Regions from separate parts of the Homo sapiens genome. Here regions 1 and 3 are each linked to region 2. Evidence: fine-mapped expression QTL. A gene starts in region 2. Each other region holds a variant in brackets. All regions are shown on one strand. Distances are from middle to middle. Region 1 overlaps CEP63 (centrosomal protein 63). Region 2 holds the start of ANAPC13 (anaphase promoting complex subunit 13). Region 3 overlaps KY (kyphoscoliosis peptidase).

What was found. PIP is the estimated chance that this variant, and not a neighbour inherited with it, causes the effect.
Region 1: its variant is the best candidate, but not a certain one, in a credible set for the expression of ANAPC13 in whole blood (TOPMed, PIP 0.72).
Region 3: its variant is the best candidate, but not a certain one, in a credible set for the expression of ANAPC13 in prefrontal cortex (CommonMind, PIP 0.88).

Annotation. Positions count from the first base shown.
Region 1 is chr3:134,564,298-134,574,709 of GRCh38, reverse strand. It overlaps CEP63 (centrosomal protein 63), which reads right to left. Exons shown (of 15, transcript NM_001353108.3): 15 at 9,679-10,412. Among named protein-coding and RNA genes, the nearest start is that of KY, 82 kb to the left of the region's middle. The variant G/A (reference allele first, on the strand shown) is at 5,237.
Region 2 is chr3:134,482,828-134,493,239 of GRCh38, reverse strand. It overlaps ANAPC13 (anaphase promoting complex subunit 13), which reads left to right and starts at 7,255. Exons shown (of 3, transcript NM_015391.4): 1 at 7,255-7,288; 2 at 10,309-10,412. The coding sequence starts at 10,336. CEP63 (centrosomal protein 63) reads right to left here and starts at 7,183. Exons shown (of 15, transcript NM_001353108.3): 1 at 7,038-7,183. RefSeq lists enhancers at 6,251-7,069, 7,161-7,270, 7,351-7,450, 7,481-7,600.
Region 3 is chr3:134,609,807-134,620,218 of GRCh38, reverse strand. KY (kyphoscoliosis peptidase) reads left to right here. Exons shown (of 11, transcript NM_178554.6): 8 at 954-1,071; 9 at 9,836-10,024. It also overlaps a transcript of CEP63 not described here. Among named protein-coding and RNA genes, the nearest start is that of KY, 36 kb to the left of the region's middle. RefSeq lists an enhancer at 308-808. The variant C/T (reference allele first, on the strand shown) is at 8,023.

The DNA.
Region 1 (10,412 bases), 81 kb before region 2:
GTTGAGCCCAGGAGGTGGAGGTTGCAGTAAGCCGTGACTGCACCACTGAACTCCAGCCTGGGTGACAGAGTGGGACTCTATAACCAAAAAAACAAAATCTTAGCAATATTATGGATAAATTTTGAATCTAATCAAATATTTTTAGATCCAGTGTTAAAAAATAATGAGAAATGCTAATTTGAAGAATTATATTTCTTGTTGGAGCAGGCACCCTGTAGCTTGGCATGAGAGGCAGCAGAGCATGCCAGCAGCAGACAGACATAATTGTCTGACACATCACTAGATAATAGTTTTGGCCTTGTTTGTAGTGTTTAAGTTTAGGTCAAGGATCCAAAATGCATCTTGAGATTTCAGAAAGACTCAGAAACTGTTGGATTGCTTTGTAAAAACAGATTTGGGACTGCTGTCTAGAGCTGTGCCCACCTGAGCTCTGTCTGGTCTCCCTGCAGAAGCCGCTCCTCCATCTCTCTTCTCACCCCAGTCCTAAGGAGCTGCACTTCGGCAGTGAGCAATTATCTTGGAGCACACAGAGCACCAGCTCCTCCAATAGTGCTATAGGCCCCTTGTCCACAGAGGACAGTAGCATACCCTGCAACTCTGCAGAGGAAATGGCTGAGTGGTCCAGCTTCTCCCTGATCATATGCAGCCAGCCCACGAGGCTGCATGTCAAGCATTGGGATTGTGACCTACAGAGACTGTAGTGTGCTTGTTCAAACCTGGTCTTCTTCCAAGAAGACCCAGGAGAAGAGCACTCACCATCCCAGGCTTGCCCTAAATGCTGTCCTAAATGCTGAGGGCTTCCAAAACCTCAGGGCCTAACTCTAACACAGGCAGAATGCTCTGATCTGTCAGATGCAGAACAATAGTTCTCCAAAATTCCAAAAAGTATGTCATGAATAAAAAAAATTAATATTACCTTGCTTGGGTAAGTTGATTTATTATCTCAGCCCATTTAAAGGCTAAGCTCTTACTTAGCCAGAATACCCAAAGCAACCCTAAGCAAAAAGAACAAAGCCAGAGGCATCACACTATCCAACTTCAAACTATACTACAAGGCTACAGTAACCAAAACAGCATGGTACAGGTGCAAAAACAGACACATAGACCAATGGAATAGAATAGAAAACTCAGAAATAAAGCCACATGCCTACAGCCATCTGATCTTCAACAAAGTCAACAAAAATAAACCATGGGGAAAGGACTTCCTATTCAACAAACGGTGCTGGGATAGCTGGCTAACCATATGCAGAAGATTGAAACTGGACCCTTACCTTTCATTGTATACAAAAATTAACTCAAGATGGAGTAAAGAGTTAAATGTAAAATTTCAGATTATAAGAAACCTAGAAGAAAGCCTAGGAAACACCATTCTGGACATCAGCCTAGGCAAAAAATTTATGACTAAGTCCCCAAAAGCAACGGCAACAAAAACAAAAATTGACAAGTGGGACCTAATTAAACTAAAGAACTTCTGCACAGCAAAAGAAACTTTCTACAGAGTAAACAAAATGGGAGAACATATCCTCAAACTAAACAATCTGACAAAGATTTAATATCCAGAATCTATAAGGAACTTAAACAACTCAACAAGCAAAAAGCAAACAACCCCATTAAACAGTGAGCAAAAGAGATGAACAGACACTTCTCAAAAGAAGACATACAAGCAGTCAACAAATATATGAAAAAATGCTCAACATCACTAATTATCAGAGAAATGCAAAAGAAAACCATACTGAGATAACCATCTCCTATCAGTCAGAATGGCTATTATCAAAAAGTCAAAAAAACAACAGATGCTGGTGTGGTCGCAGAGAAAAGGGAATGCTTTATACACTGTTGGTGAGAATATAAATTAGTACAGCCACTGTGGAAAACAGTTTGGAGATTTCTCAATGAACTTAAAACAGAACTACCATTTGACCCAGCAATTCCATTACTAGGTATATATATAAAAGAAAATAAATCATTCCACCAAAAAGACACATAAACTCATACGTTCAGCATTACACCATTCACAATAACAAAGACATAGAATCAACCCAGGTGCCCATCAATAGCGGATTAGATAAAGAAAATGTGGTACATATACACCATGGAATACTACATAGCCATAGAAAAGAATGAAATCATGTCCTTTGCAGCAACATGGATGCAGCCAGAGGCCATTATCCTAAGCAAGATAAGGCAGGAACAGAAAACCAAATACTGTATGTTCTCTCTTACAAGTGAGAGCTAGACATTGGGTAGTAACGGACATAAAGATGGCAACAATAGACACTGGGGATAGAAAGAGGAAGAAGGGAGGGGAGCAAGGGTTGAAAAACTGTCTATTGGATACTATGCTCACTACCTGGGTATTGGGATCATTCATATCCCAAACCTCAGCATCATGCAGTACACCCATGTAACAAACCTGCACGTGCACCCCCTGAATTTAAAATAAAAGTTGAAATTATTTTTTAAAAAAAGACTAAGTTCTTAGAGTCAAGACTGACATTAAGCACAAATACTGCCTCCTGTAAACAAGTGAATGTTCGCAGGGAACCAACATGACCAGGCATGAGATAAAACATAAGTAGGCCTCTAAATTCTTAACCTGGAGTCCACAGACACTTCCCAAGGATCCAAGGATACAATTTAGGGTTCCATGAACTTGGGTGGGAAAAACTGACATCCTTATTTTCAATAACCTCTGACTGAAATGTACTTTTCTTCCATTATGAGTATAGGCCACAGTGCTAGCAGTACCTTTAGCTTTATTCCAATAGAAATCACAGATATTTTCATAGCTCATTACAATTGTGATGGACATATTAAAACATTACTTTCATATGTCCCCACTTCAAAAGCATGGTAGGTGATAGACCTGCCACTCAGTCTTGTTATTTAATGAGTTAACAAAGAAGTGCATATAATACTACATCACAAATTTGTTTTTTCTTAGGTTTTCATAACTGAATGATGATATTTTATTTTCCATTTAATGCTTTGTATCTTTTGTTGTTGTTGCTGTTGTTGTTGTTGTTGTTGAGACAGAGTCTCGCTCTGTTGCCCAGGCTGGAGTGCAGTGGCACGATCTCAGCTCACTGCAAGCTCCGCCTCCTGGGTCCACGCCATTCTCCTGCCTCAGCCTCCCAAGTAGCTGGGACTACAGGTGCCCGCCACCATGCCCAGCTAATTTTTTGTATTTTTAGTAAAGACGGGGTTTCACCATGTTAGTCAGGATGGTCTCGATCTCCTGACCTCATGATCCACCTGCCTCGGTCTCCCAAAGCGCTGGGATTACAGGCGTGAGCCACCACACCCGGCCTTTGTATCTTACTTTATGCACTTAGTCATTATTCTGAGGGGTCCATAGGCTCCTCAACTCTGCCAGAGGCATCCCTGACACACAGAAGGTAAAGAACCTCTAAGTACCTAAGCCACCAGCTCCCATTCCATTTGGGAAGCAACAGAGGAGGCTGAGGCAAGATGCTTGCCAGTGGGAGGGAGAGAGGGCACTCCTAATCCCATTCAGAGGCTGACCTGGCTCTGGGGAATTTGACTTGCTGTGTTTTCCATTCTGTTTTGGCATATTCTTAAAAAACACTTGATGTGATTTGGTTGTGTCTCTGCCCAAATCTCATCTTAAATTCCCACGTTGTGGGAGGGACCCAGTGGGAGGTGGTTGAATCATGGGGGCAGGTCTTTCTTGTGCTGTTCTCATGACAGCACAGAATAAGTCTGTGATGAATAAGTCTCATGAGATCTGATGTTTTTAACAAGGGGAGTTTCTCTGCACAGGCTCTCTTTTTGCCTGCTGCCCTCCATGTAAGATGTGACTTGCTCCTTCTTGCCTTCTGCCATGATTGTGAGGCTTTCCCAGCCAAGTGGAACTGTAAGTCCATTACACCTCTTCTGTAAATCGCCCAGTCTCAGGCATGTCTTTATCAGCAGCATGAAAACAGACTAATACAGTAAATTGGTACCAGTAGAGTGGGGTGTTGCTGAAAAGATACCTGAAAATGTGGAAGCGACTTTGGAACTGGGTAGCAGGCAGAGGTTGGAACAGCTTGGAGGGCTCAGAAGAAGACAGGAAAATGTGGGAAAGTTTGGAACTTCCTAGAGACTTGTTGAATGGCTTTGACCAAAATGCTGATAACTATATGGACAATGAAATCCAGGCTGATCTGGTTTCAGATGGAGATGAGGAACTTGTTGGGAACTGGAGCAAAGGTGGCTCTTGCTATGTTTTAGCAGAGACTGGTGGCATTTTGCCCCTACTCCAGAGATTTGTGGAATTTTGAACTTGAGGGAGATGATTTAGGGTATCTGGCAGAAGAAATTTCTAAGCAGCAAAGCATTCAACAGGTGACTTGGGTGCTGTTAAAAGCATTGTTTTAAATGAGAAACAGAGCATAAAAGTTTGGAAAATCTGCAGCCTGACAATGCAATAGAACAGCAAATCCCACTTTCTGAGGAGAAATTCAAGCCAGCTGCAGAAATTTGCATAAGTAATGAGGAGCCGAATGTTAATCCCCAAGACAATGGGGAAAATATCTCCAGGGCATTTCAGAGGTCTTCACAGCAGCCTCTCCCATCACAGGCCTGGAGGCCTAGGAAGAAAAAATGGTTTCATGGGCCAGGCCCAGGGTCCCCATGCTGTGTGCAGCCTAGGAACTTGGTGCCCTGTGTCCCAGCCACTCCAGCTGTGGCTGAAAGTGGCCAACGTAGAGCTCAGGCCATAGCTTCAGAGGGTGCAAGTCCCAAACCTTAGCAGATTCCATGTGGTGTTAGTCCTGCAAGTGTGTAGAAGACAAGAATTGAGGTTTGGGAACCTCCACCTAGATTTCAGAGGGTGTATAGAAACGCTTGCATATCCAGGCAGAAGTTTGCTGCAGAGGTTGGGTCTTCATGCAGAACCTCTGCTAGGGCAGTGCGAAAGGGAAATGTGGGGTCAGAGCCCCCACACAGAGTCCCCACTAGGGTAGTGCCTGGTGGAACTGTGAGAAGAGGGCCATTGTCCTCCAGACCCCAGAACGGTAGATCCACCGACAGCTTGCACCGTGCACCTGGAAAAGCCACAGTCTCTCAATGCCAGCCCATGAAAGCAGCTGGGAGAGAGGCTGTACCATGCAAAGCCACAGGAGTGGAGCTGTGCAAGACCATGGGAAGCCACCTTTTGCATCAGCGTGACCTGGATGTGAGACATGGGGTCAAAAGAGATCATTTTGGAGCTTTAAGATTTGACTGCCCC[G/A]CTGGATTTCGGACTTGCATGGGGCCTGCAGCCCCCTTGTTTTGGCCAATTTCTCCCATTTGGAATGGGTATATTTACCCAACGCCTGTATCCCTATTGTATCTGAGAAGTAATTAACTCACTTTCGATTTTACAGGCTCATCGGCTCAGATTTGCCTTGTCTCAGATGAGACTTTGGACTATGGACTTTTGAGTTAATGCTGAAATAAGTTAAGACTTTTGGAGATTGTTGGGAAGGCATGATTGGTTTTGAAATGTGAGGACACAAGATATGTGAGAGTCCAGGGGTGGAATGATGTGGTTTGGCTGGGGCCCCACCCAAATTTCACCTGAATTCCCACGTGTTGTGGGAGGAATCTGGTGGAAGGTGGTTGAATCATGGGGGCAGGTCTTTCTCACGCTGTTCTCGTGATGGTGAATAAGTCTCGCAAGATCTGATGGTTTAAAAAGGGGAGTTTCTCTGCACAGGATCTCTTTATGCCTGCTGCCCTCCATGTAAGATGTGACTTGCTCCTCCTTGCCTTCCGCCATGATTGTGAGGTTTCAGCCACGTGGAACTGTAAGTCTATTACACCTCTTTCTCTTGTAAATCACCCAGTCTCAGGTATGTCTTTATCAGCAGCATGAAAATGGACTAATAAAACACTTAATACTTCAAATATTTTGGATCTCTGGAAAACAGCTTGAGAAATGTGGATTTAAGGAATGACTTTGCCTGGGGAAGCGTCTGGAATTGCTTGGTGTTGTTAAACAATGGGTTAATGTTAAACCTTTTTGGAGCAAAATAAACAGATCAGGTGATGCCTTCTTAGTCTACAAGCCATAGCTCATGCAGGAGGTAGCAGGTTGAACATATCACCAATCTGGAACCTTTCCTGTCCTTTGCCCATGGTCCAGAATTTATTAATATGAACAGGCTACTGCTGGGGTTCCATGCTGGGCTGAGGGGCCTGTCTTCCAGAAAAGGGGATCCTTGGGGAAGCACTGAGCTCCTGCCCCAGCCACTGCCCTGTTGGGTTACACAGGAACCTGCAGGGTTGCAGTGCATGCTCCTGTTGGGACCAAGGGCTATGCTTGCCTGTGGCTGAAGAAACTAACTGGGAGATAACACTTCCGGTCTTGTTTGTTGTATTTTATTTAAGTTGGGGATCTGAAACACATGTCCTAGGTCGCAGAAAAGTCAGGGACTGGTGGGCTGTTTGGGTTTATGCTATACATCAATGGCAAGACAAATCCAAGAGCTGGCCCACTGAGAGGCCCCCATTACCTCCCAAAGCTGGTGCCACAGAAATCAGGACAGCTCTGGGAACTGATGATTAGCCCATCCACAGTGGATGCCTGTCAAAGGGATAGCCACTCCAGAAAAGGACTAGGAAGACTAGTTTCAAAGAGTATCTTAGCTCATCTGTTTCTCATAGCCAAAGAAATAAAGCAGGTTTAGGTAATGTACTTGGCTTTTCTTTCTTTACTTTGCCCAGTCATGCTTGTAGAGATACTGAGGGACTTGCTAAGCAGTCTTAGGGCAGAACTTCAATATGCTCATATTCCACATCAGTGGTCTGTAACCCTCTAAAGTGTTTGTAAACAGTCCTCCTCTAAGCACTGAGGTTAGCGCCAAGCATTCCTGCAGCTTCTCCTTAGAATACACTTAGCCAAGACACTGCCTGGCTGATGAGTGGCCTTTGCTGCCTGCAACCTCGCCTAACAGGAAGCAGCACCAAGACTGAACTCCCACCCGGAAGAGCAGGAACCCCTGCGGTGTGCAGGCCCCTGGCCCTCTGCCCCACAATATTGCACAGTGCAGAGCCACCCCACACCACAAGCAATGATTAACAGAGCTTGAACATCCACTCTCTCCAAGAAAGGTACCGTTACTCCTGTGAACTGAGAGTTGAAAATAGAAAACTTTAGAATAGCTTGTGCTATATGTGTTGTGGTATTCCCTTAATATAAACTTGATATTTTTAAGGAGCTGCCATGCATCAGAGGCTTTTTTTTTTTTTTTTGGTAACAGTGATTAAGATATAATTTACATACTATATAATTCACCCATTTAAAGTACACAATTCAGTTGTTTTTAGTTGTTATATTCAGAGTTGTGCAACCATCACAATCAATTTTAGAACATTTTCATCTCAAAAAGAAACCCCATACCCTTTAGTCTTCACCTCCCAATCCTCCTATCCCCACCCCATTTCCCACCCCAACCTTCCGCCGCCAATCCCTAGCAACTACCAATCTATTTTCTATCTCTACAGATTTGTCAATTCTGGGCAATTCATGTAAATGGAGTCATACAATATGTGATTTTTTTTTTTTTTGCTTTCTTCCTGTTTTCAAGGTTCATCCATGCTGTGGCATCAGTAGTATAATACTTCATTCAAATCTTTTTGCTCCCAAATAACATTCCATTACATGGATATACATTTTGTTTATTCATTCATCAATGATGGATATTTAGGTTGCTTCCACTTTGGTGTTATTGTGAATAATGTTGCTAAGATCATTTGTGTACAAATTTTTGTGTGGATATATTTTCATTTTTCTTGAGCATATATTTAGGATTGGTATTGCTGGGTAATATGGTAACTCTTTTTGAGGAACTGCCAAACTGTCTTCCAGAGTGACTGCACTATTTTACATTCCCATCAGCAACATATGAGTGTTCCAATTTCTCCACATCATCTTCAACACTTGTGATTGTCCATTTTTTTTTTATTATAGTGGATGTGTAATGGTATCTTATTTTGATTTTGATTTGCATTTCTCTGATGACTAATGATGTTGAACATCTTTTCATTTGCTTAATAGCCATCTGTACATCTTTGGAGAAATGTCTATTCCAATCTTTTGTCCATTTTTGAACTGAATTGTCTTTTTATTATTGAAAAGCTTAAATTTTGAATGACTATTCAACTGCACTTTAAAATTCAGCCCCAGAAGGGAGAGGTTGGACTCCTCCAATTTTATGTCTCTCCCCAGGAAATGGGATACCATTCTGGGACAACTCTAGTCCCTAAAGCTATGGTTTTTAATCTCTTTTTGATTCACAGACACCTTCAAGATTCTAATGAAAATTATGAACCTTCTCCCCAGAAAAATGCACAATGCACATTTTTTGCATTTAATATTATTATATTACTATTATTAACATTAATAAATGTTTTGCATTTAATATCAAGGAGTTTTAGACCTTCCCCTATCAACTACTGCCTTACGTTCTTTTTGTAAGAGGAGTGCAAAAGTTCTTCTGACTGGATGATTGTCAAATAATTGAACCTGGTCTTAATGGGCAACATAAAATTCCCAAATTCTAGTTCCTCACAGAGAGGGAAAAAAAAAAAGATGTGAATTGTATGTCTGAATTATCAAAATTGCACTGCGGAGAAATAGCTTTTACAAAAGATTGGTTTAAAGCAGTCTATCATCCCTCTAAATTTTCCCTTTTCAGGCCATGAGAGCTTTACGCAATCATGTTTGTGGCCCTCTCAGAACAGTTTCCTCTGAATTTGGATGTCAGCCTTATGCCATCAACCCACAGTGAAGCATACTGTGGGGGGAGCTGTGCAGATTATTATTACCAGTTATGAAAATGTTGGACTTCTCTTCTGGATACTCACATACTTTACAAAACGCTTATTCAAACACACAAAAAAAATCTGTGCTTTTCTTAAGTCTATGATTTTTTTTTTTTTTTATCTTATGGGCACCATAAAACTTTTAGGTAAATGTTTTCTCCTCTGCTTTTCCCCCTCTGAAGCTCAGAGGTAACTTGGCTGCCTTCCTCTAGCAACTGGACTGGACAACTAGATTCATTAGTGAATCAATGTTTACAGCCCTCATTTTCCCTCTGCCCCGATTCTGTTTGTTACTTTTTGATGCATTTATACTATTTCAAACTGTTTTGGGACAAGCTGACACATTTCTAACTTTTTCTACATTTCAGTGCTGTTCATGACAACTGTTTGCTTAACGTATGTTCTCATGCCATAGAGCTTATTTTATAATTATCTTTCTTATCTGCAACTTTTAGGTACTGGACTCGAGTGTTTTGCAAACAGAAAATCATCACCCACAGTTTACCAGGTGTTATGTGTATGTAAGAGAGAGAAGGTAAGAATTGTTTGGGTTTAAGCAGATGTCACAGAAACAGAGTGTTGTAGTATTTTTTCTACACTTGTTGAGATCAAATGAGTCTGCAAGGGAAGGTAATGTCCAGCCCACAGTGGGAAGTCAACTTTGCCCTCTTCAGCTAAAATCTGCGTAGGAATCCAGATGAAAATTCATGGGAATCCAGGACAAGAAGAATGAGATGACTTGCCCAATAAAACATTATCTGTAAACACCAGATGTAGACTACAAATCCCTAATCTTTTCATCTCATTTGGGTACCCTGATCACGGACAGATTTTGGAAAATGTGTGTTAAGACACTAACTCAGATTTAGTCTTGACACATTTTAATATTTGGTATTAATATATCTTTTTGAAAAATGGTGAGACATTAAATTACAGTCAAATGTTCTGACAAATTTGGACAACCCATTAACTATTAGATACTTCAGCTTTAAAAAACAGTATAATTTAAGGAAATACATAGTACCTCATGATTCCTTAAGTATTTCCGGTGACTACAGAGTCTGTCATTGTTCCTCCTAGTCAACACGTAGTACAAACGTTTCAGAAACGGGCTGCAGTCTACAGATTTTAAGCTGAAGCTTGGGACTGTCTAAAACTCAGAAATCTCCTGAATGTAACAGCAATGCACATAGGTACAGTACTTAAAACTGCAAAGCCCTTTCAAATATATATTTTCAGTAAATCTTCTCGACCCCATTAGATATTATTTCAGTTTTACTGATAAATACAATGAAGCCTTGAATGGTAGTGATTTTCATCCACCCAATATTTGCTTAGGATCTGTTATGTGTTAGGCAGCATGCTGACTGAGGATGTAGGCAGGACTTAGCCCCTGAAAGACAGAAATCAAAGCGGATAGCAAAGTCTGGTCAGAGCCACACACAGGGTGCCATGACAGCAATGAGGAGAAACGTTCCCTGACATGGGTCAGGGGATATGGGAAAGCTTTGCCAAGCCAGATAAAGTAGCCAAGTAAAGGGGGAGTTTTAGGAGCACATGACAGGGTGTGGGAAGAGGAGACAAACTGAAGGACAGCA
Region 2 (10,412 bases):
TTTTCATGGGTTCTAACAGCCAATTAAATGTCCACTGTAAGTAGCATGCTCCTGACAACCATACACGGATACTTAACTAACATGTAGGAAAGTGCTATTCTTATTGACAGTGCTATCACAGTTATTCAAAATTATCATTAGTAAAATTATACTTATTTAGGTCATGTTATTCTTAAACATTAATATATTTAGTAATATACATTAATATATTTTCTATGACTATTTAATAATATACTTAGAAGTTAAGTTACTGAATGTTCAACAGCTGCCTTGTACACATTGTCTAAATCAATCTTCACTATACTCATAAAAGACAGATACTATTACTTTGAGAAAACAGGCTTAGAGAGTTAAATAACTTGACTATGATAAACTAAAAATTATAGTCCTGGATTCAACCTAGACATTGTGGCAATCAATTGAGTCACAATCGATGTGCAACCTTTATATATTTTACAGTATTCTATATCTTAAAATATATCAGCCTATCTTTTGGCTTAATAGTGTCTTTGCAATAAAAAAAGAAATTAAACTGAAGTATGACATCACTACTGTGGCCACCAGGTGGCAGCAGCACAATAATGAAATAGTCACATAAGAAATATTGCTATTTTAGAAATCAAAATGGTCTAAGATAGAGATTCCTGTTTAAAAAAAAAAAAAAAAAGGAGGGAAGTGGACCAGTAATATCCTATGTGAGAAATAAAGTAAACTTACTAATGTGCAAAGTGTTTCTGTAATACCTTCACCATCTGCCTGGTGCCAAACACCATCAATTCTCAGGATCAGGCAAATAGTAAGGGCTGATTTTCTGTGGATGTTTGTCATCTGAGTTGCTCATAGTTATATCACTGATTCTTTTCCTAACCAACCTGACCATCATTCAACTCTATGCACTATGTCACTTTGATTTCTTCTTTGCATGTGCCATATAATTACATAAAATTAGACCATCCTGGCTAACACGGTGAAACCCCGTCTCTACTAAAAATACAAAAATTAGCCGGGCATGGTGGCGCGCGCCTGTAGTCCCAGCTACACGGGAGGCTGAGGCAGGAGAATGGCGTGAACCCGGGAGGCGGAGCTTGCAGTGAGTCAAGATCGCGCCACTGCACTCCAGCCTGGGCGACAGAGCAAAACTCCGTCTCAAAAAAAAAAAAAAAAAAAAAGAATACAAATAGAATGTCTTATAATAGGCAAATCTTTGAAATTCATTAACATAGACTTTATGAGCTAGAAAGCACTTCAGGCCTCTAATTTAACTTTATCATTTTACAGATCAGGAAAAATATCATAGTATATGCCCAAGACCAAATTATTCACAAAATGGGACACAGGAAGAAAATAAAAACTCCAGACAGAATTATGAATAAATGTGTACATACTAAGAGAAGGGATATGCCTAACCTTCAAGTCTAAAGGAGGATAACAATGCTCTCTGTCCCTGTACCTGCCTTGGTGTCGTTTTCATTACAAAGCTCTATGATTGTGTCAGATATACCATGGCCAGTAAACTATGGCTGTTCCGATGAACAATCAGTATTACTAAGCATTTTCCAGAAAGGCTCCTAATTAAACTGATACCAGTAAATAAGGTATTAGAGAAACTTTTCAAAATATTAAAGTTTTTAAAAAATTGTCCAAACTATAGTTCAAAATCCAGGAAGAACAATGAGAAAGTCTGAGAAATAGGAGTACATAAAAACAAACTTTTATATGAAAAAGTGCCATAAGCAAAGTTAACTGACAAATGACAACAGTACCTGAAAGTTTTACCACAAACGGTTAATTACCCAAATATATAAGGAGCTTATAAAAGATTAGGCAAAAAATCTATAGAAACATGGGCGAGAGGTATAAACAAGCAATGCACAGAAAAATACAAATGACAGTAAAAATATGAAAAGATGTTCAACCTTGCTCATAAGAGAAATACAAATTAAAACTACAGTAAGTTACCCTTTCTTCTGTACCAGATTAACCAAAAATTAAATGTTTGATAATACACTCTGATGACAAGGCTGTGGGACAACAGGCACTCATATACATAATAGGTAGGAATGCAAAATGAACACAACTGCTATAGAGGAGACTTTGGTAATACCTAACAACTGATATATGCATTTACCCTTTTATCCAACAACGCTACTTTTAAGAATCTATCCCACAGGCTCATTGGCAAAAATGCAAAACAACATATCCACAGGGATATTCACTGCATGACTATTTGTAATAGCAGAAAATAACACAAGTGTCTATCAAGAGGGGACGAATTAAATATTCATCCACCAATGGAGTACTACGAAACTGTAAAAAGGAATAACAATCTCTACATACTCCTAAGGAGGGGATCTACAGGACATATATCACTAGGTGAAAAACCCAAGATGGAAAACAGTATACATAATAGCACATTTTACCTAAGAAAGAAAGGTATGTTTGTCCATGTAGATTTGCTTTTAGGTATGTGTTTTTTTAATGGAAGGATAGACTCAAAACTAGTAAAAACAGTATCAGTAAGGAAGGAAAATAAGCAGAGTGGAAGAAACAGAGATGAAAGCTAAATTGTTTTATGGGTACTTGTTTTATGGGAATTATGCTAAGGTTTTGCATATAATAAAACAAATCAAAATGGGGAAAAAAGCAGTACTGAAAAATTGGAAACAAAATAAAATAAATCAACTACCAACTAGATATCAACTTGATAGGCTAACTATACAATAAATTACTTCATATGCCTTTAAATACAATAATTTTACTATACACTTTCCTAGAGACATATAAAATAAGGATAAAAGACAGTTGCAAAGAAATCCTAAGCACTATTCAGGAATCATATTGATAATAAAATAGCCTGTTAACTTGAAACCATTATATATAACATAGGATGAGGAAAAAAAACTAATTCTATTAATGGCACTAGGCACCAAGACTCAGCAAAAAAGATACAAACATAAATCCAACGTGTGAAAAAACTGTAAAATTAAGTTTAAATTTTGGAAATTTAAATGTTAAATGTTGGAAACAATGCGAATTTTGCATATTTGTGTTTTTTTTAATATATAATATTTCCTAACTCTGGCCACCATAAATCCTAGAACTAACGACTAACCTAGTAGCAAGAACACCTCTCCCACCTAGGTAAGACTGTGGTCTCCAAATACTATCTCAGACTCAAAAGAACCACGGCTCCTTGAAGACCAGAAATCTATAAATGAGCCAGGAAAATTATTTACCAGAAAGCAAGGAAATTACCAAAGCTATTGGTCATATCAAATGGAATAGGAGCCAACTTTAAGGAGCTCCCACTGGCCAAAGATGAAACAATTTGAGTATTAAAAACACAACTGCCATATGTTGAAACAGTTTAAATATAAAGTCTATAAGTTCATGATTATAGGTTTACAAAAAGGCAAAAACCCTCATGGTTACCTTTGGAGGCTGCTAGGCCACCAACTCATTACTGTGGTCTGAAAATAGAGGCAAAGAATTAAGCATTTTTCTTGCCTTTCCTGTACAAATTGTATTTCAGGGTAGTCAAACAGCTGGAAAGGGAAAGTTCTTCATAAAAGACTCTCAGTTGATAAATATTGAAGAAATAATAGAATTAGATAATCACCACGTTGCAACCTCTAATGCAATAACGGATACAGGCAATATAACCCCACAAAAGGACTTCACCACTAAGTGAAAGAGTCTTGGGGAATTTCACTATGGGTGGATGGAGCTAACTACACCTAAACCCAATATAATGTTTAATGTTAACATCATAAAAAAAGAAAACAACTCAGACACTGCTTCCCTGATAATTAATGAAATAGGAAGTATACTGCATTACCTATGAAATTATCTGTCCAACCCCCCCAACTATCCCACCAAAAAACAAAACAAAAACAAATATAAGGGTGAAATCTCATCAGGCTTCTAGAGCAGTGCTGTTCAATACAACTTTCTGCAATTATGAAAATATTTTATAACTGCACTGTTCAAAAAGCAGCCACCAGGCAATCTGTAGCTACCGAGCACTTGAAATGTGGCTAATGCAAGTTAGGAACTGAATTTTTTTTTTTTTTTTTTTTTTGAGACAGTCTCGCTCCGTCACCCAGGCTGGAGTGCAGTGGCGTGATCTCGGCTCACTGCAACCTCCACCTCCCGGGTTCAAGCGATTCTCCTTCTCCTGCCTCAGCTTCCTTAGTAGCTGAGATTACAGGCGCATGCCACCACGCCCGGCTAATTTTTCATTTTTAGTAGAGACGGGGTTTCACCATGTTGGTCAGGCTGGTCTCGAACTCCTGACCTCGTGATCCACCCACCTCAGCCTCCCAAAGTGCTGGGATTACAGGCGTGAGCCACCGCGCCCAGCCTAGGAACTGAATTTTTAATTTTATTTCACTTTAATTAACTAGCCACTGCTGGCTGGTGGCTACAATACCGGACAGTGCAATTCTACATCTAACTACTGGTTTAGAGCAGTGGTCCCCAACCTTTTTGGCACCAGGGACCTGTTTCATGGAAGACAATTTCTCAACACCGACAGGGCGGAAATAACACATTTTGTAAATATCTTTTTGTTAAAATTCATATGAAATGTTTTGGGGGAGGAATGGCCAAACCACTTTTTTTTGTTTTTTGAGACCGAGTCTTGCACTCTTGCCTGGTCTGGAGAGCAATGGTGTGATCTCGGCTCACTGCAACCTCCGCCTCCCGGATTCACGTGATTCTCCTGCCTCAGCCTCCCGAGTAGCTGGGATTACAGGCGCACACCACCACACTCGGCTAATTTTATTGCATTTTCAGTAGAGACGGGGTTTCACTATGTTGGCCACACTGGTCTCAAACTCCTGACCTCATGCCCACCTCGGCCTCCCAAAGTGCTGGGATTACAGGCGTGAGTCACCGCGCCCGGCCAACCACTTCTTCAGTAATATGAATAATACACATGGACAGGGTTAGGGGCATGGTTTCAGGATGAAACTATTCCACCTCAGATCATCAGGCATTAGTCAGATTCTTATAAGTGTGCAACCTAGATTCCTTGCATGCGCAGTTTACAATAGGGTTCGTGCCCCTAGGAGAATCTAACCTCACGGCTGATCTGACAGGAGGCAGAGCTCAGGTGGTAGGTAATGCTCACTAGCCTGTCACTCACCTCCTGCTCTGTAGCCTGGTTCCTAACAGGCCACGGACTGGTACTGCTCTGCGGCCCCGGGTTTGGGGGCCCCTGGTTTAGAGGACACAAAGGCAACAGAGATACATGTTAAAGGATACTGTGCGATGCAATCTGCTAAATTTAGAACTGTAAGGAAAAATAGGGGCTAATCCCATAGCTATAACTATGAGGGAACAAATATAGATTAAAAGATGTCAAATGTGCATCACCCAAACACAATAGGCAGATCCCTGTGGGATTTTGGTTCAAACAAGCTAATTGTAAAAAGACATTTAAGAGACAGTTGAAGAAATCGTTATCTGACTGGATATTGACATTAGAGAATTTTTATTAATTTGTGTATGTGTAATGACAGTACTGTGGCTCTGTAAAACTGAAAAACCTAGCTCCTGATGGGGGCGGGGAGGCGGACTAAAATAACATAAAGATCGGAGATTCAGTTCCTGAAACCTTCTGTCAATGTTGGCTTTAGCTGAATTTCAAGTCAAGTTGACATTTTTTGAAAGCAGGAAGCAATGACAGAGTGGACTACTGATGCTGTCACCATCTGCCAGCACAACATAAATTAGAACAGAAAGGACTAAGCAAAGGTCTTCCACCATTTTAACGAGAGGAAATGGCATCAGTACAATCAACATACACAATTTTTACAAACAACTTTTAGATTTGCATCTACATACATTTTAAAAGGCAGTGTGCCTGTTTATAAATCTCTACTCTAATTTAGTTTCAGAGCTTTTTACTACCCTGATCACTGATAATGCCACAGTCAAAAAGCAAACTCAAAATAAAAATCAATCTAAAAATGGTACTGCATGCCAAATAAGAAAATATATACACTTTATCATTAAGCTACAGCTAACAGAAATCTAATCAACGATCCTTATGATTTCCTCGTATCTAAAAAATAAATGCAAGCACTTGAGGAACTGTATAAATACAGGGCATCTACCCTACAATACTGCTTTATTAAAATAATAAATTCTTTTAATAAGTTTAACCAGACATAAGGCTCAGGGAAAACTACTCTGTGCATATCAGCGTACGGTGCTGAAACTGTAAAAGACGACCTGTCTCTGACATCATACTCATCTTTACTCTCCTGATGTCGTAAGGGACGTAAGAAAAACCACATTATAAGCCTAAATGTACTGTCTTCAAGTATCTCCATGATTAAAGTGTTCCTAAGAAACCGTCCTTATTTCTTTCTATCCCTCATTTGTGTGCATGGAGCCGTTAGTTCAGGGTTCTCCAATTTCAGTCCACGATTTATGCCACATTTCCGTACCTCTTGTACTAACATAACCGTTTAAACCAACTCACTATTTTAAAAGCTGCCAACCTTAACATGCCACACTAAATGAGCGGGTCCCCTTGTGCCGTGAATGAAGTAGTCCCAACAGCGCTAGCTAGACAGCAGCCCTGGCAGGGAGGCCGCACTGGGGTCTCTCCGCTGAAAAGGAAGGTGGGTCCGCCGGGGAAGGTGAGTACTGGGCGCAGCTCGCTCGCCCACCTGGCCACTCTCCGAAGCGCCCCCAGCCACCTGGACTCCGAGGAAGGGCTGACCACCTGGCGGGGCCGAACCCCACGCCGGGCTGCGCCACGCCAGACTCCGCCAGTGTGCAGGGCATAGCGGGCCAGGCCGAGGGACTGGGCTTCGGGGCGGACCCAAGCCGGCGGGGACGCGCCTGGTGGTTCGCAGGCCGTTGCGCAAACCGGCCGCAAGCCATGAGGCCGCGAAGCCAGAATCACCAAGGCAGCCTGGGCCGCCTCCAGACCAGGACACGGCAGCCCCTTGCCCCTCCAACTTGCGCACCGGCGGTTACAGGGTTGCCGCAAGCACGCCCCTGAGCCTTCCCGCCGTTACCTCGGGCCGGCGCTGCGCACGCGCGCCACCGCTAAGCTTACGTCCAGCCTCTGTAGTCGGCGCGTTTGTTCCGCCCACTGCCCCCACACTTTTAATAATTGAAACAATGCCTTCTCCAGACTTCCCCTGCACGCGAGCAAATGAACTCACCCACATCCGGGAATCCGAGGAAAGCGAGTGCAGACACGTGATGCGGGGGAGGGGGGGGGGGCGTGGCAGGAGCAAGCGTCTGCCGCGGTGGCCGGGTGCCGGTAAGGGTTTCCAGCGCCCCCGGCCTAGGTTTTGGAGGCGCGGGAATGCGTTCGTTGCTCAGTGTCGGACTTCCCCCTATTCCCATCGGCCGAGGCTGTCACTTTACGCTCATAACCGTTTTTCTTTACTGCACTCGTGTCGGGAGGAAAGGGACTTGCGTGGCACCCCCAGACCTCCCCGTCTCCGCTTCCACGTTTGGTACATCCTGCCTGAGGCAGGAAGCCGCAGCTGAGGGACGGCCTGTCGTACGGTGCGGATGGTGGTGGCCTGCGAGGCTCATTTCTAGCAAGGAACAAGGCTTTCCCGCTTTGATTTTATAAATATTATGTTTACAAAGCTGTAATATATAGAAATTGATAAGACGTGTCCCTGTCCCTGGAAACGCAGGCACCGCGTGTTTGGAAAGACATTCATCTGGGCTGTTTGACAGACTCCCCAGTTGGTGCCATGCTCTGTGCTTAGGGAACTGTGAGACCCCTGGAGGGGTGGGTACCGGGACCGCACTCAGCCTGGGGTTTGGAGGCGGCCTCCTATAGGAAGCGACCTGGGACCTAAGATTTTTAGACTGACTGTGGGTTCACTGGAATAAAAAGGAAGAAACAAAGAGCATTGCAGGCATCGGGACTGTCACGTGAGTAAGAAAAGTTTGTTCAGGAAACAGTGGTCGTACTGGGTGACGAGTACTTGGGACGGTGGCTTTAATACACAAGATAATCAGTGTGCCCTGGGCATTGATTATCTTGATGCTTCCCATCCTTCCAGCCCCTTATGAGGGAAGGCACCTTCGCGCCTAATCCCGGAAATGGGATGTTGACCTTCAAGAGCTGACGCCTGCGTTTATCTTGAAAGGAAGAGTGGCATTAGTGATGTGGAAAAGGGGGTTTTAACTGTCAAGGCTGGAAAATGTGACAGGGTTGGAGGTGTTTGGAGAAGGGACAGGTGAAAAAGATTGAGACCAAATGTGGAAAGATCTACTAAGGAATCATGGGTACAAAATGTACACGTAACAGTTGGAGGCAATAATACCTGAGCAATTGACCACAAAGCTGACCTAGCTTGTTTAGTAGATTAAGTTAGGACAAGAAGCAAGAGTTCAAGGATAGAAGGCCTACTGAAGCTCGAGTGATTTGAGAAAACTTTACAAAGGTGGAAAATCTACGTGGGCCTCCGAAAGTCAGGTTTGGATCAGCTGAGGAAAGTGAGAAGGGTATCCCAGGAGACAGAGCAGCAAGGACAAAGGAGTAGCAGCAGGAAAGTGGGGAGCACTTGTAAGACAGGGACTTCAAAAGTATAACCAAAACTTCGTCTTGCTTTGAGTTATCCACTGGGTAGTACTCGGTTAATTATTGAGTACTGGATTAATTAAGCCCTCACCTGGCTCACCGGTGACAGAAGTAGCAGGGCGCATTTTGCTTAACTTTTGCCGAGATCCTTGTCATGGGGGTGTAAACCCTTTCCCACACCAATCTGTGTATAATTTTTGCCAAGGTGTTAGGGATATCTTGCAGTTATCCTATGGGGGACAGCTGTGAGCCTTTTTGGTTTTTTTTGTTTTTTTTTTTCCGAGACGGAATCTTGCTCTGTCGCCCAGGCTGGAGTGCAGTGGCGCGTGGCGCTATCTCGGCTCACTGCAAGCTCCGCCTCCCAGGTTCACGCCATTCTCCTGCCTCAGCCTCCCGAGTAGCTGGGACTACAGGCGCCTGCCACCATGCTCGGCTAATTTTTTGTATTTTTAGTAGAGACGAGGTTTCACCCTGTTAGCCAGGATGGTGTTGATCTCCTGACCTCGTGATCCGCCCACCTCGGTCTCCCAAAGTGCTGGATTACAGGCGCGAGCCACCGCGCCCGGCCCTGTGAGCCATTTTTACAAAAACTTCCACCTGCCTTGGCCCAAACCTCAGCGTTCTTAGGCACAGGAGCTCATGAACATACTGAGATAACACTAAACTGGACTATGCGAAGGGACCAACTACAGACCTGACACAAATCCTCAAGGCAAGACGATGTCTGAAGTTGAGCTTGTAAAGGAAATGGCTTCCTTCCTTAAAATATCACCCAGGCTGAGCTCTGAAAAAAGCACCTCCAGATGGTGGGTTCCACCCCGCTCCACCACCCCAAAATTGCTTATTGTGTGAGTCTCCATAGTCTCAGAAACTGAGAGTACCTTTGATGCCAGTGGCTTCCGGGCTTTTTGGATTGTCACTTGGTAGCAGGGAGCACCCATAGGATGATGCCTATGATGAGTCAGGGCCCAACCTTGGAAACAGGGAAATCCAGAAGTATCCTACAAGCTAGCCAGCCTTTTGGATTAGATTATAGCAGTTTCAGAGAAAAATGGGGAATCAGCCATGGTCAAGGAGCTAAATAAGCATCGTGACCATTTGGGCCAGAAATTGAAGGGAGTGTAGCGTTAAGAATTAGAGGAAGGAACCTCCGAGGAAGGAGCTACCCCAAAGGGAAGCAGAAACTGGAGAAACTTTAGCAGTATGAGGTTCTACCACTGGTGTTCACCTAGAAGTGCTTTATTCAGATCTCAGCCTGGGTACTATTTTAGGGAAGGAAGCCGTTTCCTTTACAGTATGTTCGTGTGACTCCTGTGCCTAAGAATGCTGAGGTTTGAGCCAGGGGCTAGAAAGGAAACTTAGCTGGCCATTATGAATCAGGGACTCATCAAAGGCATCACAAACAGGAAAAGGTGAATGTTCAAGTTAGAAGAGAAGAGCTACATTGAGATGCAACATATTAATATTTGAGGGCCTCGTTTAACGTGTTGCTCTCCTGTCACACTCTATGACACTGGTCTGTCAGCTGGGCTATGCCTGTCCAGTATACACTATAAAATATGTATCAGTTGGGGTTGGAGAGAGGAACTGTGATCAAAGTAGTCACCCGGCCCATATGAGAAAATGAACCTTTTCCCAAAAGGTGGCCCCAGACTAAAAAGCCTGGAGAATCCTAATAGTGGATTATACCATCTCTTCAGTCTTCGTGTTTAAGAAATAACCTCTTTGGCTTACAGATTTGACAAGATCAAAGCTGCAGGAAAATGGACAGTGAGGTTCAGAGAGATGGAAGGATCTTGGATTTGATTGATGATGCTTGGCGAGAAGACAAGCTGCCTTA
Region 3 (10,412 bases), 130 kb before region 2:
TATGCAGCTGCCCACAGCTCTCCACAGGATGGCCTTGGGAAGCTCCCGGGTCAAGCAGAGCTGCAGAGGTGGTGGCTAAGGGATGCTGCCCCTTGCCGCCTTGCAAACACAAATGAGAGTGGGCAGGGCCAGATCACGAGGTGGACTCCTAGTCCTTTGACATAAAGACCAGCCGGGTCTTTCTCGACCTGCTGCCACTGGGCTTTTCTTTTATTCTTCTGGAACAACAGTTTGGAATGCAGCTTAGAGAATGAGCTCGCCTGGCACAGGTAGGAGGTCCAAACTGAGGACTTGAGAGACCCCCAGCTCAGCTCCCATCCCAACTCCACCAGCTGTGCCTGTGCCTTAAAGGGGCAGGGTCAGAAATGGGACATTTATAGGACTTCGTTACTGCTCTATCCCCATGCCAACACACACATACACAGTCTCAATGGGTCCTCAATAGCTACAGAGACTTCTGCCTTAGGGCCTCACCACAGGCCTCAGGCTTCTTTGCAATGTCTTCATCCCCTCCTTAGTGAAGTGACAGGCTGTGGGAGAGCAGCCTTCTCCACTTGGAGACGAGCTCTGTGTGCCCCATGGGTCAGCATGAGGCCTTCGGGCTGCAGGAAAACGGGATGAGTGATTTCACTGGAAATGTGTGCAGAGCTGTGTGGTGGGGATTAGCAGAGAGAGCCCCATGCCTCTGCACTGTCCTGGTCCCTTCTCCTCCTAGCCCCTCCTCAGAGGCTTGGGGAGCCAGGTGGCCCCCTCTGCCAAGGCCTGCTCTTCCTCTCACCACTTGCACAAAGAGGTGATAGTTCCCAGATCCCATTTGTGCTGGGGCTGTAGTTCCATTCAGCCCACTGTAGTTTCCTGGGGCTGGTGATGGCCAGAGCACAGCTGGGGGTTGGGGTGGAGTCTTCTCGCCTCCCAGGCTCAAGCTCTTCATGATCCCCTCACCTGCCCTATAGAGTATGACATTGCAGCTGCTCAGGAGAAGGACCGCCAAGCCTTCAAACCCACTGACATCCTGCGGACCCAGAAGACCAACTGTGATGGCTATGCTGGCCTCTTCGAGAGAATGTGCAGGTACGAGAGACAGGAGTCCCCATGCTGACCACCGGACCCATCCCTCTCCCTCTTCCACAGTGCCATGTGCCTTTGCCCACATGCCAGGCCTGAAACCTGAGTTTACAAACTCTGCTCTGGAACCCAAGTGAGTCCTGAAAAGGTCAATTTCTCCCTTTTTAACACCAGCATAATTGACTTTGTACCATCTGCCGGGCTTCGCGATGCATTAACATAATGGTAGATGAATGCACAGAGATAATTTGGTTATAAAAAGCCCTTTTTCCGCCTTCTCCCATCTCTATGCAGCTGAAGGTTAAAAGAATGGCAGGCCTGGGAGCGGGAGGACAGTGACTGCAGATGCCAAGGGGACTGTGAAAGGCTGTCCTCAGGGCTGACACAGGGAGCCTCTTTTGGGGGAAACAAAAGATCTCCCACCTGAAAAGATTTGTCAGTTGGACAGCTGAATCACTACGAAGCGGCTACTCTTGGAGTCGCTGGGCTCCATTTTCAGCACTCTGGGAGTGGGCATATGGCCAGGTTGCTGGGGTGGGTGACAGCTCTGGCCTGAGCAGGAGAACAGGCCATTGCCAGTTCCCAGTGACTCAAAACAGGCTCAAGATGTGGGGTGGGGGGAGGGGATGGCCACTGACCCCCACAGCTTCCTGAGCCTACCCTCTGAGGTCTGCTGGGTTCCTCCAGAAAACAGTCAGCTAGCCCTGGGGCCATCAAAGAACCCCTCCCCAGGGGGTGGATGAACAGCGGCCCACTGTCTTTCTAGGCTTCTGGGAGTGAGTCTTCTTAGGCACCCAGATGTCAGCCCACCAGAACTGCAGGTGGCAATTCATCAAACCAAGTGTAACACTTAGTCCACAGGCAGGCAGTTGTGATGGCCTCAGTGTTGCAGAGGCGGCAGCTGCCGAGCACTGGGTGCATGCAACCTATTCCTGGCCCAAACCCCCTGTTGTGCTGCCTCCTGCCCCCATCACCACTGCCAAGCACAGGCACCTACCCGGCTGCTGAGTTACTCTAAGCCTCCTGCTCTGCTTCCTGTACTTCCCTTTTCTCACTTTCAAGGCCAATCCCTGAGACCACAGCCCCAGACGCAGCCACGGTGGGTCAGGGTACAGAATATGCCACCCAGGCTGCTTCCCACCCCCTACCCCAGACCCAAGCATACCTCCTGCTGCCTGCAGGCCTCTCCAGGAACCTGGATCCTCACTGGCCTCTCTGTCCAGGCTTCCCTGGTCCTGGGTTCCTAACATCACTAAAGGATCACACTATCTAGCAAAGTCCTCCAAAATCTGACCTCAGCCAAGTTTCCAGCCCTGCACTGTGTGACACCACCTTCCTGACCACCTCTGCATGCACACCTGCTCCCTCTCCCCAGAGCTCCTTCCAGGCCCCGCTCCAGGACAGCCCACAACCTTCCCCTTCCTTTGTACCCCCAGCCCAGTTGCACACCAAACTCATGTGTTGCCTTATGCTTTCAATTAATAACATTTTTAAATTTAAAAAATACCATTCATTGTAGATGGTTTATAAAATGCACTAAAGCAAAAAAGAAATTATTACTCTGAATCTCACCACTTACAGCTAACACTGGTAACATTTGGTCATATTACTTTCCAGACTGTGTTCTGTGCATACAGGAATTACCTGTGCTCGGTTGTTGTCATACATCCTATCGATTGTATACGTCTATATTTGCCTTTATCTCCTCTCTCCTTCTACCTCCCCTGCGAATACCCATCTCAGAATCCTACACCCAGTAGGCCCTCAATAGACATATATAGAAATGACAGGATATTCCTAGCAGACTTATGTGGAATGGAATGTGGAATTCTCTTTTAACTGATGAAATAGCCACAAGTCTCTTAGCTCCATTTGTGCCTAGCATCTTTCAGAACATGATTATTTTCCTCTGATTTTACAAATTTGAAAAATGCTTAGCATTTTTTCCAAGTTCCAGGATATATTCCTCTTTATCCAGTATAAGCTTTCTAGCATACTGTAGAAGGAATGCCAGATTTGAAGCTAGAAAGACCTGGGTCTACCACTTAGAGTGGTATCGCCTCCTTGATCCAGTATAAGCATCCTAGCATCCTTTAGAAGGAGTGCCAAAGTTAAAGCCAGAAAGACCTGGCTCCCAGTTTTTAATTTACCACCTATTAGTTTTGTTCTTTGTGGTAAGGCCCTTAACCTCTTGCAGCCTCAGTGCTCTCATCTATATATTGGAGACTAGATTGCCTACCTGGCAGGGCTATAGGACTCAATGAGACTGCAGTTTGGGGGTTACCAACCCGATTTTGGGGTGGGTGTTTTTTGACCTATCTTGTCTTTCTTGAGTATTGATTGGAGTCCTTTTGCTCTGTGGAGTTTTCCTACAGACTCTGCCAGCCTACATAGATTCAGAAAATTGACACTTGCCTTGAGTGAAACTGTCAGCTTTTTGCCCTGGTCCAGATACTTAACAATGGCCCTATTCTGGCCTGCAGCTTATCATTAAAACTCTCCCTAACATTTTGCATCATTTAAAATTAGTTCCAACATGGTGATTACCATGTGCAAAATTCCTCACACTGCCTGAGATGTGTAGCAATAGCTCACGGTCCCCTGAATTCCTTTAACTGTTTCTTTAAAGATCAGTAACCTATCTATGCATCCCTCTACTAACTCTCTTTACCTTTAAAATAACTGCCAAAAGTTTGGTAAATTAATTAGCTAATTCCTTAATAACTGAGGACATATAATCCGCACTTGCTGATTTATCCCTTCTTGGTTGTCAGGGTGGACATCATTACTTTTTGCCAGTCCATTCCACCTCCCTGAAATTGTCTCATTAAAGACTGATTTAATAAAGTAATTTGGGGAGGAATTCAGATATTTTCACAACATCATTCAGTTCCTTCTGTCTGTCCCAAGTCACTGATGTGGGGTTTTTTGGTTAATGCTATAGCTTGTAACTGCTGGTCCAGTTTCCTTCTGACTTTCTATCATCCAACATTAATGTCTCTCTTTTTGCCTCAGTTGCCTGCATCCTTAGTTGATTCTGCCTAATTTCCTCGCAGGAGCCAAGCTTAATTCCCCAGACTGCTGCTCTTGAGTCGGCCTCCAGTAAATTCTCTTCCCGTTAGCATGGCTTTAGCATCACCAGCTAGCAGGTTTCAGAGACGTTGGATAAAGCCAGGCACTTATTACGAGTTTGAGCCCTGACACTGAGGGAGTTGGTTGTCACCAATCAGATGTCAGCTGGCTTTCCACTCATCCTCCAGCTGTCACTGAGAGCAGGGGCAGGAGTGTGTGCAGTCAGATGGCTGCTTCTGGTTAGCAGTATGTCCCCTATAATCCTAAAACATCACTTGGTTCCAAAGGCCCCAAAAGATAGGCAGTGGCCATCTAAGCCTTCTGGGAGATGCAGATTCATTGGATAACCTTAAATTATCACCAAATCTGATGCTGGTGTATAAGGCCTCTGAAAGGGACATCTTAGCTCCCCCACCCTTATAGCTACACCAAAGGATGGCACTCACAAAGATGAGTTATGTCACTGGTGCAAACCACCTTTCCATTTCACTCTCTATACCACCTACAAGTGTATAGATCAAAACAAAATCTTGATTTACAAAAGAGCTGGTGCAACATTGTGCACATGTATCCTAAAACTTAAAGTATAATAATAACAAAAATAAAATAAAATAAAAAGAAAAAAGAAAAAAAATTAACTTACCATGTCAGCTATGAGGAATATGAGGTCAAATGATTTTTCCATTTTCCCAATAGATGTTTTCACACGTGAAAAAAAAAAAAAAAAAAAAAGCTTCTTGAACTATGCATCAGGACAACTGCATCCACTGCTGCTCCGGCCACTGGCTAGCTGTGTGTCCCCAGGCAAGGCAGCCTCTCTCTCTGAACAGCTGACGCCTCCCTCACCTTCAGAGAGGAGGCCTCTGAAGTCACGTCTCATGAGGTTCTGCATGGGGCCCTGGAGAGAGAATTATTATCAAGATTACTAGTTATTGACGTAGCTGTAAGGGTAGTGTGTAAGAAAAGGGAAAAGAGAGCACATGGGAGAAATATAAACACACTGTCAGATTATAAGAAATCAAGTACATAAATTGTGAAAGATAAGTCATGGTTTGTTTGTCCTGCTGCAGTATAGAAACCACAGTATTTTCAACAAAATACCAAAAGAAAAGCATACTTCATAGTCTCTCCTACAGGCACACTCCCTCCCTTTTTCCCTCACTTGGCTCACACATCCTAGGAGAGGTGATCAGATTTGGGAAAGTCTACTGCGGTCAGAGCCCATTGGTGTAGGGTGCACCTGTCCACCCAGATATTTCAGCCACACAGCTGTTGGGGCCTGGCCTTGGTACTGACTGTAGGAGCATCATACAGTTCCTATGGCAGGGCCTGGACCATCTCAGTATAAAATAATACCAAATTAATACACTAGGATACAGTGCACCAAACTGGAACACACAGATCTTTTTAAATAATAAGGATAATGCATTCATAGAAGACTCAGCAGCTTCAGGGTTCATCAAGGGTAACCCAGGTAATGACATTGCCTTCTGCTTGGCTGCCCCTCTGTTCAGTCTCTTCCCATCAGGCCACATTTGGTGGCCATGTGGTCCTTTGCAGCCCTTGGGGCTTCTCTGATTGGGTCCCTGAGCCCTGATATTGCTGGAGAGTGGGGGCTGCAGCTTTCTCCAAATCCTCCAGGGTGCTCCTTGGCAGCTTGTTCAGGGCATCTTACATCCATGTTTTCATTGTGGCTTGGGATATATATCAGCCATGAGCTATGGAGGCAAAATTGAGGTTGTCAATTCTGTAAAGTAGAAGCGAAGATTCTGCAGTCTGAGGTCATTAAATAAATCTCCTTGGGTGATATTTTAGGCTCTGGGATGGCTGGTCGGAGCTCTTCAGGAGGTGGAAATGTTTCTAGTCCTCGGCCCCTCCTTCCGTGCTCTCTCAGCTCCTGCCTGCAAAGTTAATTCCTCCACCTTTGGGCTCTCCAGGTCTTTGCTTATAGACTGGGATTTTATAAGCAAAGTTCTGGAGACAGTTCCAGTGACAGTTCCCATATCCACCCTCCTTCCAACTATCAGCACATCTAGGGCAGCCACTGAGCCTTATTTTGGGGATATGATATTTTTTTATGTTGTTACATTGTGTTGCGTTGTATGGTGCCATGTCATGTTATAGCATTCCCTGCTACAGTGCTTTATACACAGTGTGTGCGGCCAGTGATCTTTTGATGACATGAAAGAGTTGTGGTTCATCCTGGCTAGCAAGAGTGGCTGGAGACAAAACTCCTGTGGGTTCCACAATCATCGTCTTATACATACAGAGGATTTTGCATGAGAATTATGGCATATTAACAATAATGCTTTACATTATGACCTTCTTTGTCCAATTCATCTGGCACATTGCTGCCAGGTAATAAAATATCCTCATATCAGAGTCAAGCATGGCATAAGCTTATAACTGAGTTTATATTTTCATCTTTTTTCTGCCCCAGGCATTCCCCACAGCCTTCCCAGCTTCTCCTCAGCCTGTCAGAGAAGAATCAACCCCTGGAGATCATTTAATGCCAACATTTCTCTCTGCCCATGATAAGCCTGGCAAGGTCACTCTAGAGGTGACCACCAGACCTGGGAGGTGACCTTATTTCCTGGCTCAGGGGCCATCACCCCCACTCAGAGCAGTACAGGTGGACATCCCTGCCCCTTGCTTCTTCCTCCTGCTCTCCTTTCCAGGGCTGGGGCAGGCTCTCGCTGCTGCTCCCTGACTTGGTTTTTCCAATCTTGCCTCCACTTCACTCCCTTGAGGGCAGGATGTCCCCCTGGGCACACGGCCTAGGACATGGCTTCTCCCAGGAGGACATTCCATACCCATTCTGATTTACCCCACCGCCTGGAGGCTGCACAAATGCTAAATTCCTCTCCTTCCTTCCTTGACTCCAGGTGGCTCTGAGCAGAGGACAAGCATCAGTGGGCAGCATGTCCAGAGGTCCACAGCGCCGCTAAATCAGTTCACCTTAATGCAAAACGAGCCATTCTCCAAGCCCCATTGTTCCCAGGACTCCCCTTATCCCTCCACATCATCCTAGAAAGTGATATGCACAGACATTCTAGGCAGCAATGGAAAGTAATTTCCTGAAGAATATAATTTTAAGTAGTATTTATGGCTTTTTTTCCAATTCTCAAAGTAACACATAATCATTATTAAAAATTTAGAAAATACAGAGAAGTTTCAAGAAAAACATTAAAATCACCTATAATCCCATTGCCAAAAGATCAGGTGCCTTTTGTGCCATCTCTCCCCCTCTCACTCCCTGCCCCTCCTTCTCTGTGCATGCAGGCAACACACACACACACACACACACACACACACACACACACACACACAGCATCGGCGTGACATTGTGCTGACTGGAGAGATTGACATGCTGTTGTCAGTTCACATCGTGTCAGGGGCACTGCTTAGCTCACTAAATATTTTTCACAACATTTCTTCTCCTCACCCAGTCTCTGAGTAGATGGGGCCCCACCTCCTATAGAATGTCTATCCCACCCCTACACCTCTACCCACTCCTCTGGCCTTGCTTTCCTCTGGTCCTTCTCTGCTAGCTGTTTCCTCTCAGACTATAAACACATCCAGACTTCCTCATCCTGAGAACAACCCCCTCAGCCTTGCATCCCCTCAGCACTCCCCACCACCTTCTGCTCTCTGCACTGCAGAGAAATGAGGAGAGAGCACTCCAGGTATGCAGGCTGCCCCTTCTCCCCTTCCTTCCACGGTCTCCTCAGCTACTGCCTCCTTCTGCCCTGGAGTGGCTTATGGCCTTTGCCAGCAGAAAATCACAACACTGGGATCTAGTTTCTCTTGCAGTCTGTCCCCATGCCCTCAAGTGCTCCCAGAAGCCATCCCACAGAGCCAAGCTGGTATGTTCTTATGGGATTC[C/T]TTAGAGGGCTTAGGAGGCCTGAACCTCCTTTTGTGAAGCAACAGGCAAAAGGGCGGGGGCTAGAAAACTTCCAAGCCCCTAAGGAACCTCAGCACTAGTGGCCCGGACTTTCCACAGGTGAGCAGAGGTTAAGGCAGACATGGTAACACCTCATCATTGCATGCATGTGAAGAAACACTGATGGCTGGGAAAGTAGAATCTGTTAACCCTCAGGACATCACATTTGATCCCAATGACTCTCTCAGCAAGTGATATGTATTAGTAATATTTAATCCAATATTTTGCTAATTTTAAATTACATGTTCATTTTTACAAGGAAGATTCCCCCAATTCCTATAGTAGATGCATGGCCATTTCACCCCATTCCCCTGGGAGGCTCCGTGGCCCTCTTGTTTAGAGCAACTGAGGCTGCAGCCCTGGTCTGTGGAAGGGCCCAGCCCCATGGGCCCATCTCACTGAAACAGACCCCACCAACACCCTGGACTGCAGACTCAGCTCAGCTGAGTACAGCACAGGGTCACCACTGAGTTGGGGACTGAGCAGCTTGTGTGGTACTCAAAGGAGCCCCATCAAAGGGGCATCAAGCACATCCTCGGTTTCACAGGTTGTGTATCTATTACACCAATTTTCCATGAGTGCAAGGAAAATGTCTTGAGGAAGGGGAACCTTTTCTAATTTACACAAAGGCCCTAGGAGGGCTAGCATGGGATGTCCCTAGGTCAGACTAGCAGTGAAATTGTCTGCACAGTCCATCCCCTTGGCTGTCCTCAGGGGAGCAGGGCTGCTGAGGAGCAAGACCAGCTGGCCATGAAAGGACACCCAGGGGTCTTGCTTTGGCCTTGGACTGGTGCCCACAGCCCAGGCCTGGGCCTCAGGGTTTTAGCTCCAAATGTCTCATTTTATATCTTCCCCAGAGGTGACCCATGCCCATCTTCCCATCCAGGTTCCCAGAAAGCAGTGCCAGCTCTACTATGAGCAGTGAAGGAGCACAATGTCAAAAGGACCCCAAAGCTCAGGTTGACTGGTCGGCATTTCCATTCCCCTCAGGACAGCCACAGGAGACTCCAGAATTGTGGCCAGGGCAGGCAGTCAGCAAATGACCTTAATGCACCATGATGGCTCTTGCACCATGTTCACAAAGGACAGACCCACCAGTCAGACCTGAGCAAACTGGCAGCTGGCCAGTCCTCCCTGGGCCAGGGCTGGAGACATCCACCGCCTGCCCCGGGGTTCCCCTGCAGGCATCCTTGGGAGGAATAGCAGGGGGGTAGGGCTTGGCTTCTGTACCCTCACAACCAGCAACCCCACAACACCTCACCCATGTCACGAGACCCATCTCTTCAGTCGCATGTCCAGAAGCGCCCTGGTTCTCCCAGCAGCTGTGCTCGCCCCTTACATGTAGGTTTTGTTGCAGGAACATTGTCATTTCCCCTGCTCCTATTTTCTTGAAGCCAGCCTCACGCTTGCCCCCATTTTTTCCTCCTGAAGAGCTGCTTGAGGAGCGTGTCAAGCAGGCTCTAGGGATGAACATTTCAGAAGTGATCTGAATGGTGTTGGTCTCAGGGGAGGAGCAGACAGCGGAGACTGCAGCCAGTCTGTACCAACAGGACCAGCCAGCACTGTATCTCCCTGTCCCCAGTGCCCCGAGATAAAAGCCATCAAGGCTGTTTATATGTGAGTACAAGAAGCAAGGAAAAGGATAGACAGGGAGGACTGATGGGCAGCAAACATGCCTGAAACCTGAGACCATGGACAGACTTGGAGGCAAGCCACAGCGGGATCCCCCTCTCAGACCCCCTGTCCTGCCCCCAGGCTCGCCGGAGTGCAGTGTATGACCGTGCCTGGCTACTCCAAGGGTTTCGGCTACCAGACAGGGCAGAGCTTCTCGGGGGAGTTTGACCATGCCTGGAATGCTGTGTACCTGGAGGGAAGATGGCACCTGGTGGACAGCACCTGGGGCAGCGGCCTGGTGGACACCATCACCTCCAAATTCACCTTCCTGTAAGTACTTGTCTCAGTTCTGCTGGGCGTCTGGCAGGTGGAAGTGGAGGATGTGCCAGGCAGCATGAAGCAGCAGGTGGAGAAGACCAAGCGGGAGGGGAAGGAGAGCCAGGAGGCCCCATGCCCACTCCTCCTCGGCTCTGAAGTGGGCTGGCTCCAGGCCAATTGTGAGGGCCCAGACCCTTTTGTCACCTCACCCTCCACTGACAAACTCCCCACTCTGACTCCCTATAACTCCCTCCACCAAAGCACTGAAAGCCTGCAGCATTTGCCCCCAGACCACACATGAGGAAAGGTGGGCTAATAGCCTTCTTTAGTTGTTGGCAGGTTCCCTTCCAGACTTTGGCCATTGACCACATTACCAGGCACAAATGCCAGAATGATCTCT